3 linked regions of the Homo sapiens genome follow. The protein of the gene in region 1 purifies or fractionates together with the protein of each later gene. This does not show direct contact. Each region holds a gene or a part of one and is shown on either strand. Other genes may lie near its edges. The genes, in order: RBM42, IGF2BP3 and ZC3H18.

Region 1 (3,224 bases):
CCTGTAATCCCAGCACTTTGGGAGGCGGAGGCAGGTGGATCACTTGAGGTCAGGAGTTCAAGACCAGCCTGGCCAACATGGTGAAATCCCGTGTCTCTAAAAATACAAAAAAATTAGCCAGGCTTGGTGGGAGGCACCTATAATCCCAGCTACTCGGTTGGCTGAGACAGGAGTATCGCCTGAACCCAGGAGGCAGAGGTTGCAGTGAGCCGAGATCAGGCCACTGCACTCTAGCCTGGCAACAGAACAAGACTCCATCTCAAAAAAAAAAAAAAAAAGAAAAGAGATACTTTTTGCATATCATAATACTATTATCAAGTCTAAGAACATTAACTAATTCGGTATCTTCTTTTCAGTTTATATTCGTATTTCCCTAGGTGTCCCAAAACTCTGTTAGAACTATTAATGTTTTTGCCCTGAACCAGCATGCATGCAGTTTTATGTCCTTCAATTATATCTTTTTTTTTTTCTTTTTTTTTTTTGAAACGGAGTCTTGCTCCATCGCCCAGGCTGGAGTGCAGTGGCGCAATCTCGGCAGCTCACTGCAACCTCCACCTGCCAGGGTCAAGTAATTCTCCTGCCTCAGCCTCCCGAATAGCTGGGACTACAGGCGCGCACGACCATGCTTGGCTAATTTTTGGTATTTTTAGTAGAGACGGGGTTTCACCATGCTGGCCAGGCTGGTCTCGAACTCCTGACCTTGTGATCCGCCTGCCTCAGCCTTCCAAAGTGCTGGGATTACAGGCATAAGCCACCACGCCCAGCCTCGATTATATCTTAATAAGAACGGTCTCTTTCCTGCCTCTTTGTTTTGTACATATTTTTTGAAGTGTCCAGGGCAGTTGTCATGTATGATGTCCCACCTTCTGAGTTTGTCCGGTTGTTTGCTCCTGGCATTGCCTAACTTGTGCTTAGAGTGTCCCATATCACAGACGCCATGGGGCAGCCGTGCAATGGCTGAGGAAGGAGATGGACCCCTCCTGCTTCAGTGTTTGACTTCCACCCCCTCTCCTGGGACCGTCTACCTGGCCCAGAGAAGACCCTAGCTCTGTGACCTTGGGCAAGTCACTTAGCCTGGTTTTGTTTTGTTTCTTCTTTTGTTTTTTTTTTTTTTCTTTTTTTTGAGACAGAGTCTCGCACTGTCACCCAGGTTGGAGTGCAGTGGTGTAATCTTGGCTCACTGCAGCCTCCGCCTCCTGGGTTGAAGCAATTCTCCCACCTCAGCCTTCCGAGTAGCTGGGATTACAGGCACCCACCACCACACCCAGCTAATTTTTGTATTGTTTAGTAGAGATGGAGTTTCACCATGTTGGTCAGGCTGGTCTTGAACTCTTGAGCTCAAGTCATCCACCTGCCTCAGCCTCCCAAAGTGCTGGGATCACAGGCGTGAGCCACTGTGCTTGGCTCACTTAGCCTTTTAAGCCTCATATTCCTCATCCCCTCCCTTGTGGGGACAGGGATTCATTGGGACAGAGCATGTTCAGTGGAAGCACAGGCCCAACTCAGAGGCAGCATGAGAATGTCAGCTGGGTGCAGCCATGGCGGAGGAGCAGGCAGCATGTCCAGGTCTCAAGGGGGAGTTAGGGCAGGCCTTGCCAAGGAAGCAGGGCTGAGGAAAGATGAAGCCCATGTTCCTGAGGTGCCATGACGGGCAGCCAGTGGGTGACAGGGGTCCAGGGGACCAAGGGACACCAAGGCTCAGAGGAAAGGCCAGGGCTAGGGCAGAGTTAAGGGTGTTACTACAGGAATGAGTGAGGTGGCCCTGGGGTGGGGAGGGCAGTGCAGTTCAAGGTTAAAAGTAAGGACTGGAGCCAGATGCCTGAGCTCTTGTCTTAGCTCTGCCGCTTCCTGCTTGTGTCACTGTGGGCAGTGACTTCACCTCTCTGTGCCTCAGTGTAAAAGCATGGTTGGGAGTGCCAGAAATGGAAACACCCCTCCAGGTGCCAGCAGAGCTCCTGGCGCAGGGTCAGTAGGTGTTGACCATTATTACTAAGAGGTCCCTAGGCAGAGACTAGATACCTCCGAAAAGGTGGGATCGTTCAGACAAGGTAGACACTGGGCAAGGCCTCTGCATCCTCTGATGTCATCTCTTCCCCATCCCCAGATGACTTCCGGATCTTCTGTGGGGATCTGGGCAATGAGGTGAACGATGACATCTTGGCACGCGCCTTCAGCCGCTTCCCATCCTTCCTTAAGGCCAAGGTGATCCGTGACAAGCGCACAGGCAAGACCAAGGGCTACGGCTTCGTCAGCTTCAAGGACCCCAGCGACTACGTGCGCGCCATGCGTGAGATGAATGGTGGGTGCGGCCTCCCCTGGGAACTGCAGGCGCGGCAGGCGCTGGCCTAAGCCTGACCCGAGCCTGCCTTGAACCCTCTGTCTCCACAGGGAAGTATGTGGGCTCGCGCCCCATCAAGCTTCGCAAGAGCATGTGGAAGGACCGGAATCTGGACGTGGTCCGCAAGAAGCAGAAGGAAAAGAAGAAGCTGGGCCTGAGATAGGGTCTGTGGCCAGGCACCCGCTCCCACCTGGCCGGGCGCTGGCTCCTCCCTCAGTTCTCTTTGGAAAACCCCCAGCTGTCCACCCATCCCCTGCCCCAAAACCAGTTTCAATAAATTTACGTTCATTTCCACCCCTGGCTGGGCATGGAAGCACGCTGTGGGGAGCAGGGCTTGGCTTCCCCACAGCTGGAAATGGCGGGGAGCCTTGAGAGTTTACCCAGGCAAACACCCAGGCGGGGGCTTCTGAGCCCTTCCTGCGCACCCATTCCCTCTTCAAACCTCTTCCACACATGCTGAGTGCTGCTTATTCCAGAGGAGAAAGGGGGGCCAATGGCAAGGGTGAAGCCAAGCTGAGGCCCATCCCCGTGTCCTGGCTACTTCCTGTGTTCTCAGCACCAAGGTAGGAGATCTAGGCCCTTCCCTTCTGGAGCTCACAGGCTTCTAGGCCCTCTTCCATCCAGCAGACTCTCACCAAGGGTCTGAACAGTGCTTGAGGACACAATGGTGACTAAAAGTCCTGGGCCCTGCACCGTTAGAGCTCAAGGTCCAGTGCAGAAAATAGGCCCGGTGCCCTGACGATAAGAGCCCAGAGTGGTCAGGGCAGGATGGGGGCGCTGACCTGTGGGTGAGGGGGCCCTTCCTGAAGGAACCGTCCACCCCCAAGTCTCCTCTGGGGCTTTCCAGCTTCTCCAGTCTGCCATGCCCAGCCAGCTCACCATGCTC
Region 2 (3,649 bases), on another chromosome or scaffold:
ACGCTTTCCCTTTCATACCACTGCACAGGTTTTGCTGAAGTACTTGCCGTTTTGCCTCCTTTTCCAATAACTCTGCCAGCAGCAAAGGATGGCACTCTGATATGAGCTTCAAGTTTCACCTCTTCTTTAGGACTAACAAAGTTTTCTTCTTTAATTTTTCCATAAATTCTTCCCTGAGCCTGCAGATGAAAACACATCCTATTAGTGTCATTCATGTATGAAATGGAAAAGGTCAGTTAACTTGAAAGATGGCCCAAATCCAAGTGGGATAGCCCTTTGCAGTGATACATCTACATTTCATAGATTGTTGAAAATAACATAGAAGAGAGCAGTTAGAAGTCCTAAAAGGTTGACAATAACTACTGCCCATCACAGTAGAGGCAACTGAATGCTTGGTGAAAGAAGGATAAACCATATTCTTCTGATGAAAACAGTTAAAGGCAATTAATAACCTAATAAAAACGAATTTTTGTGGGCAAATGGCCATTCGTACTAAAATTGTGATAGGTAAAACTTCTCATGCTGGCCATGAGACATCAGTTGCATTTTTCTTTCCTTTTTGTTGGAGTCAGGGTCCTCCTGTTGTCCAGGCTGGAGTGCAATGGTACAATCATAGCTCACTGCAGCTTCAACCTCCTGGGCTCAAGCGATCCTCCTACCTCAGCCTCCTGAGTAGCAGACTACAGGCATGCAACACCACACCTGACTTATTTTTTTTTTTTTTTTGAGACGGAGTCTTACTTTGTTGCCCAGGCTGGAGTGCAGTGGCACGATCTTGGGTCACTGCAACCCCCGCCTCCCAGGTTCAAGTGATTCTCCTGCCTCAGCCTCCTGAGTAGCTGGGACTACAGGCACTAGCCACCACACCTGGCTAATTATTTTTGCATTTTTAGTAGGCATGGGGTTTCACCATGTTGGTCAGGCTGGTCTCGAACTCCTGACTTCAAGTGATGTGCCCACCTCAGCCTTCCAAAAGTGCTAGAATTACAGGTGTGAGCCACTGCGCCACTAATTTTTATAGAGATGGGGGTCTTGCTATGTTGCCACGCTCATCACAAACTCCTGGGCTCAAGAGTCCTGCCTTGGCCTCCCAAAGTGTTGGTATTACCAGTGCAAGCCACCACACCTGGTCACATTTTTTTTGAGCAAAAGAGACAGAACTGCAGAGTCAGCTATGCCAAGCTCACTAAAAGTCAAGCTCACATCTACATGGGCCAGTTAGAAACCTGCTGAGAAAAATGTTTTCAATTTAAATGTGTTTCATACTCTTAGAAAGGTGGTTTTTCCTTTGAATATTTTAAAGAGGCTACAACATCAAGGTAAGACACTTTTTTCTTTTTTGAGACAGAGTCTCACCCTGTCATGCAGGCTGAAGTGCAATGGCATGGTTTCGGCTTACTGCAACCTCCGACCCCCGGGTTCAAGCCATTCTCCTGCCTCAGCCTCCCAAACTAGCTGGGATTACAGGTGCCCGCCACCACACCCAGCTAATTTTTTGTTGTTATTTTAGTTGAGACGGGGATTCACCATGTTGGCCAGGCTGGTCTTGAACTCCTGACCTCAGGTGATCCACCCACCTTGGCTTCCCAAAGTGTTGGGATTATGGGCATGAGCCACTCACTGTGCCCTGCCTTTTATTTTTTTTTATTTTTTTATTTTATTTTTTTTAGAGACAGAGTCTCTTTCTCTGTGGTGCGATCTCAGCACACTGCAACCTCTGTCTCCTGGGTTCAAGTGACTCTCCTGCCTCAGCCTCCTAAGTAGCTGGGATTACAGGCATCCACCACCATGCCTGGCTAATTTTTGTATTTTTAGTAGAGATGGAGTTTTGCCATGTAGGCCAGGCTGGTCTGGAACTCCTGGACTCAAGTGATCTACCCACCTAGGCCTCTCAAAGTGCTGGGATAGCAAGCGTGGGCCACCGCGCCTGGCCAAGACACTTCTGATATTTAGAGTCAATACATCCTATCACCTACTGCATGCAACTATATAAACAACCTATTATATATAAACAACCTATTACATACAGCAAAGCAGAAAGGAGCCTGAGAGTTGGTTTGACAAGCTGCCAGGGTAAACCACAAAAAACAATAGTACCCAACACGCGTTCACTGATTCAGAAAGCTGAGCTCATTTTAGGGCACTACCGACAAAACAAAATTCATCTTGATACCCTATATTCCAATGATCCTTAATGCCTCAGGCCAATGACGTAGATATTACTATTACTTAAGACAGTCAAAAAGACACTAGGGATATACACTATCCTCCAAAACTGAAGCTCTTGAATTTGTAAGGAAAAATACGGGGTAGGTGGTTTACCATTCCTTAGATCTCTAAAGTAAAACATTCATTTAGCATTGTCACCAATCACATAAATAAAATTTAACTACTATGGCTTAAGTGTTACATTTAAGTTAACTATAAAACATGAGTTTTATTAGTGAATACAGGGAAAGAACTTTGAAGTTCCTATCATACAAACATCATAGGAGTTGCAGGACAGTAATTCTACTTATAAGACTAAAAGCTCAGCACCAAGGAAAGACATGTTTGTATTTATCTTTTAAGATTTCAAACTAAAAGTGACCCTGAGAGTTTGGGATAGGAAGCAGTTTTCAACAATTCTGAGTTAAGATTTGAACTGCCTGGATCACAAGGCTGCTGTGAAGGAATAAATTTCTTCACATGATTTTCTTTCTTCACCTAACCACCCACATCTCAAAGCACCTCCTTCGTTTCCCATTCTTCACATAAGTGAAAGCAGCTTTGGGTTTTTAGTGAAAAAATGGCCCAGAGAAAATAGAAGTCAAAGAAAGTGATTTTTTTTGTTTGATTTAAGGGAGAGAGGTGGGGTGGGGAGAGAACTGTATGCACTGTTACTAGTTACTGTTACACTTTAAGGCTAAAAAAACTAAGGCTTGGCCAGGAGCACAGTGGCTGATGCCTGTAATCCCAGCACTTTGGGAGGCTAAGGTGGGCGGATCACTTGAGGTCAGGAGTTTGAGTGTGTGGCCAACATGGTGAAACCCCATCTCTACTAAAAATAAATTGGCTGGGCGTGGCGGCACATGCCTGTAATCCCAGCTACTCGGGAGGCGGAGGCAGGAGAATCGCTTGAACCCAGGAGGTGGAGTTTGCAGTGAGCTGAGATCACGCCACTGCAGTCCAGCCTGGGCGACAGAGTGAGACTCTGTCTCAAAAAAAAAAAAAAAAAAAAGAGAAAAAAAAAACTACAGCTTAAGGTTAAATAGTTGTCTTCTTACACAGCCACTAAATGTTCTAAGACAAGACACCCATACTAAATTTTGTGGGAGAAATCATACACTAAAAGGAATATATTTATGAATTTGGCATGGTCTTAGTCTGATTCATCCATAGTCTGTTGAATACCCCCAGCACGCTAATTTTGTGCTGCCCATGTGTTAGGCACTTTTCTAAACATTTCATATATTGTGTAAACCTTAAACTACCTTAGGATGTAGGTGCTCTTATCCCTGGTTTTACAGAAAAAGGTTAAGTAACTTGCCCAATGTCATACAAGGCAAATGGCAGAGCTAGGATTTGAACTAGCAGCCTGGCTGCCAAGTCTCAGCTCTACCATCTCTCAGTAGACATTGAAAGGCACACTGCAGCCCCAAAGACCTCA
Region 3 (3,649 bases), on another chromosome or scaffold:
CTCGAAGGCGTCGGAAAACATCAGCCTCGTCAGCCTCTGCCTCTAATTCCTCCAGGTAAGGAGGGCTCGTGGGACGGCTGGGGTGTCAGCACCTTGGAGCCGTCAGCTGACACCATGTACCTCACTGGGTCAGGTGGGGAACACCCCAGCCCCACTGTTTGCTGTGGCGTCGTTACCTGCAGACCAGTCAGTGGGACTAACCCGGCGTTTATACCTTCAGCAAAGAGCATCAATGCCAAGTAGGACTGACGCAGTGACCCCAAATGGGGCACAGACCCCGGCGACTGAGCCTGACTGCTCCCAGGGAGTCACAGGCCACACTGGAGGGAGGGGCACCTGGATGCGGGAGGACGCACAGACCTGGGGCCCAGTGAGTCCATCTGTTCCTCCAGACTGGACCTGAAACTGTTGCCCCTCCACCTACGGTCCTGGTCTCAGCACACAGGAGCCCGGCTCCCGAGTGAGGGATGATGGAAAGCAGGGGGCCGGGGTAGACCCCATCATGCTCGGCAGGAACAGGAGGTGTGGGTGGGAGGCCAGGCTTCACTGAAAGTGGATGCAGATGAACAGATAGACACACACACGGACCCACGTGAGCTGGGTCTGCCCACTCAGGCAGCGCCACCCGGTAACAGCAGGCACACCCCACGCCCAGGTCTTGATTTCTAAATGCCGTTCTGCACCAAGGAGGGATGGCACTGAAGAGTGTCTGGGGGAGGCTGTATGCGTCTGTGCGCGCGTCTGCAGCTGTGCGCGCGTGCGCAGCTGTGCGCTTGTGTGTAGCTGTGCGTCTGTGGGTGTGTAGCTGTGCATGTGTGCGTCAGGGCGTGTGGGGCAGGGAGGGCCCTTCTCACTTCTCGCCACGCTCCGTCCCGCCCGCCCCAGGTCGTCTTCGCGGTCATCGTCCTACTCTGGCTCCGGCTCCTCCCGGTCGCGATCCCGGTCTTCATCCTACAGCTCCTACTCCAGCCGCTCTTCCAGACACAGCTCGTTCTCAGGAAGCCGGTCCAGGTATGTCCCCAGGGCCCATGAAGGGCCCTCAGCAGGTGCAGTGAGCAAGGGCACCTGCGGATGTGGCTTTAGTTGTGGCGCCAGTAGCCCCTTGGGGTATTGAAGGTCCCTGCTGGCAGCTGAACTAGGATGGCCAGGGGGTCGTGTCCTGTGTCCCCCACCAAACACCAGCCTTGCGGGCCCTCGTCCTTGTGTAGATGCGTGCTGTCACTGAGGGCCACAGCCTGAGATCCTCGAGTTGAGGCACTCCAGTCCTCCGCAGACAGGCCGAGGAAGGGGCCAGACCCAGCCCTGTCCTGTGGGTGTTTCTATGGGAGCTGTGCTGCTGCCCCACTGCCAAGGAGCCTGTCTCCTCCTGTCCTGCACACACATGAACGTGACACTCGCCTCCCGGAGGACCCGCCAGTGGATGCTGACACCTTCCACGCTCTCTGGTCTACTCTGGGCCTGTGTTTTTAGCAGATGACAGAACAGTCCAGAACTGAAGTTAAAACTGAGGCACATAAATGGAAATTCGTGGCCTTCTCCATGGGTCTGGGTGGGTCCTCAGTGGGCTTGGGCTGGTGAAGAAACACCCCCAGGCCCCTTCCGACACCTTTGTTCACTCCCCTAGGTCCCGGTCCTTCTCTTCGTCCCCGTCCCCGTCCCCAACACCTTCCCCACATAGACCTTCCATCAGAACCAAGGGAGAGCCGGCCCCGCCGCCCGGGAAAGCAGGGTGAGTGCCCAGCCTGTGGGCAAGTCCTGGCCGGCCAGGCCTCCACAGGCTGCAGCCTCCTCCCTCCGTCTCTATCTCTCATTTGTGTTTGGGACCAAAGAGGTGAGGATGCCTCAGGGGGCTGGCCCCAGGGGGTGACTGGGCTGGGAGGCACTGGGCACAGCTCCTGTTCTCACGGGCCACCCTTACACAGCAGCACTCCCTCGGGAACCCTGGGGACAGAGCACAGCCCTGGGGACACGGCAGCAGCCGGGTGTTCTTAAGGGGTCTTCCTATTAGCCTGCTCTCCCCACTGCCTGGCGGTGCCTGTAGCTCTTGCCTGTTAGAGGGGAGCCTGGAAGGGCTGCTGGGGGCTTTGAAGCCGTTCCCAAGCACTCTGACACCGATGGGTGGGGAGCCGTGTCCAGGCACGAGCGTGCTCACCGAGCGTCACAGGCATGCAGTGTCGTTCCCCGAGCTGTGGGTCCATTGAAAGGGGATGTAGGCCAGCGGGGCCCCGTCCACCAGCCCTGCCCTGCTCGAGCCTCCCTGTCTCACAGAGAGAAGTCAGTGAAGAAGCCGGCCCCGCCTCCAGCCCCACCACAGGCCACCAAAACCACTGCTCCTGTCCCCGAGCCCACCAAGCCAGGAGACCCTCGGGAAGCCAGGAGGAAGGAGCGGCCAGCCAGGACCCCCCCCAGGAGGTGAGCACTCCGGCGTCCGGGGCCCTCAGGCTTTCCGTGTTCTTGGTGCCACTGTGATGCTGGCACTGCTGGAAATCCAGAGTGCCAGGGTCCAGAGCCAGGTGGTGGGAAGCGCCCCCTAGCCGAGCAGCACCCAGTGAGCCCTTACCCGGGAACCTGCCCTGTCCCCTCCCTGAGCCTGTGTTTCTGGAGCGTGAAGGGGAAGGGACAGCGTGGCACGGAGCACAGGCCTTCCCGCCATGGCCCCGTCTGCACTGGAAGGTGCTGCCCCCGAGAGACTGTACTTTTTATCTTGACAAAACACTGAGCCTAAAGGAAGACAGGCCCAGGCCCTGTTCCAAGGTGGTAGCAAGGCCAGTCTGGAGGCTCACCTCACAGGGCTGCTGGTGGGGAGGGGAGGCCGCGAGGGGCTGTGGAGGCCACGCCCCCTGAGCCCCGCTGTTGCTTGTATTACAGGCGGACGCTAAGCGGCAGCGGCAGTGGCAGTGGTAGCAGCTATAGTGGTTCCAGCTCCCGATCCAGGTCATCCCCATCACCCTGTGCCTCTGTTTCTCCCTCCCCGTCGGGGCCAGGAAGTCCCAGAAGCAGCCAGTGTGGGTTGGGCTGTCTCCCACAGGTGGGCTGGGGCCCTTCTGGATCTGAGTCACCCTGGGGCTGTGGAAGGCTGCGGTTGAAGCTTTGACACAGGAGAAAATGGGCCAGGACTCGTGATAGGAAGACCCCCTCCCCCCACCAAAAAAAGATTCACAAACTCGGGGGCACTCAGGTCAGGAGGAGGTGCCTCTGCCCTGCTGACTTGATGCCCAGCACCCTGAGAGAGCACCTGCACCTGGGGAGGAGCCGGCAGCTTCCAGCCCAGCAGGGCAGAGGCTGGGCCTGCGTGACCTATCACACCTGTCGAGGGAACCGGCCTGAGGGGGTGGGGAAGCCGATAAAAACATCTGAGAAGAGAATACATGGAAAAGCTTTGTGGGCCAGGTGCGGCGGCTCACACCTGTGATCCCAGCACCGTGGGAGGCCAAGGCAGGAGGATTGCTTGAGCCCAGGACTTGACCAGCCTGAGCAACATAGACCCCATCTCCACAGAAAAAGATTTTTTTTTTTTTTTTTTTTTTTGAGACAGTTTCATTCTTGTTGCCCAGGCTGGAGTGCAATGGCGCGATCTCGCTACCTCCGCCTCCCGGATTCAACCTCAGCCCCCTGAGTAGCTGAGACTACAGGCGCACACTGCCACGCC

Evidence for each region.
Region 2: the proteins of RBM42 (region 1) and IGF2BP3 purify together in Homo sapiens (co-immunoprecipitation; 2 studies listed by BioGRID and IntAct, with this or other methods). This does not show direct contact.
Region 3: the proteins of RBM42 (region 1) and ZC3H18 purify together in Homo sapiens (affinity purification with mass spectrometry; 2 studies listed by BioGRID and IntAct, with this or other methods). This does not show direct contact.

Annotation. Positions count from the first base shown.
Region 1 is NC_000019.10:35,635,054-35,638,277, forward strand, and holds the end of RBM42 (RNA-binding protein 42), read left to right. Parts: intron 1-2,104; coding exon 2,105-2,299; intron 2,300-2,388; coding exon 2,389-2,501; 3' UTR 2,502-2,632; downstream 2,633-3,224. UniProt on the Homo sapiens protein: Binds (via the RRM domain) to the 3'-untranslated region (UTR) of CDKN1A mRNA.
Region 2 is NC_000007.14:23,313,475-23,317,123, forward strand, and holds part of IGF2BP3 (insulin-like growth factor 2 mRNA-binding protein 3), read right to left. Parts: intron 180-3,649; coding exon 48-179; coding exon of another isoform or gene 1-47. UniProt on the Homo sapiens protein: RNA-binding factor that may recruit target transcripts to cytoplasmic protein-RNA complexes (mRNPs). This transcript 'caging' into mRNPs allows mRNA transport and transient storage.
Region 3 is NC_000016.10:88,622,334-88,625,982, forward strand, and holds part of ZC3H18 (zinc finger CCCH domain-containing protein 18), read left to right. Parts: coding exon 1-55; intron 56-885; coding exon 886-1,011; intron 1,012-1,624; coding exon 1,625-1,729; intron 1,730-2,268; coding exon 2,269-2,412; intron 2,413-2,868; coding exon 2,869-2,934; intron 2,935-3,649.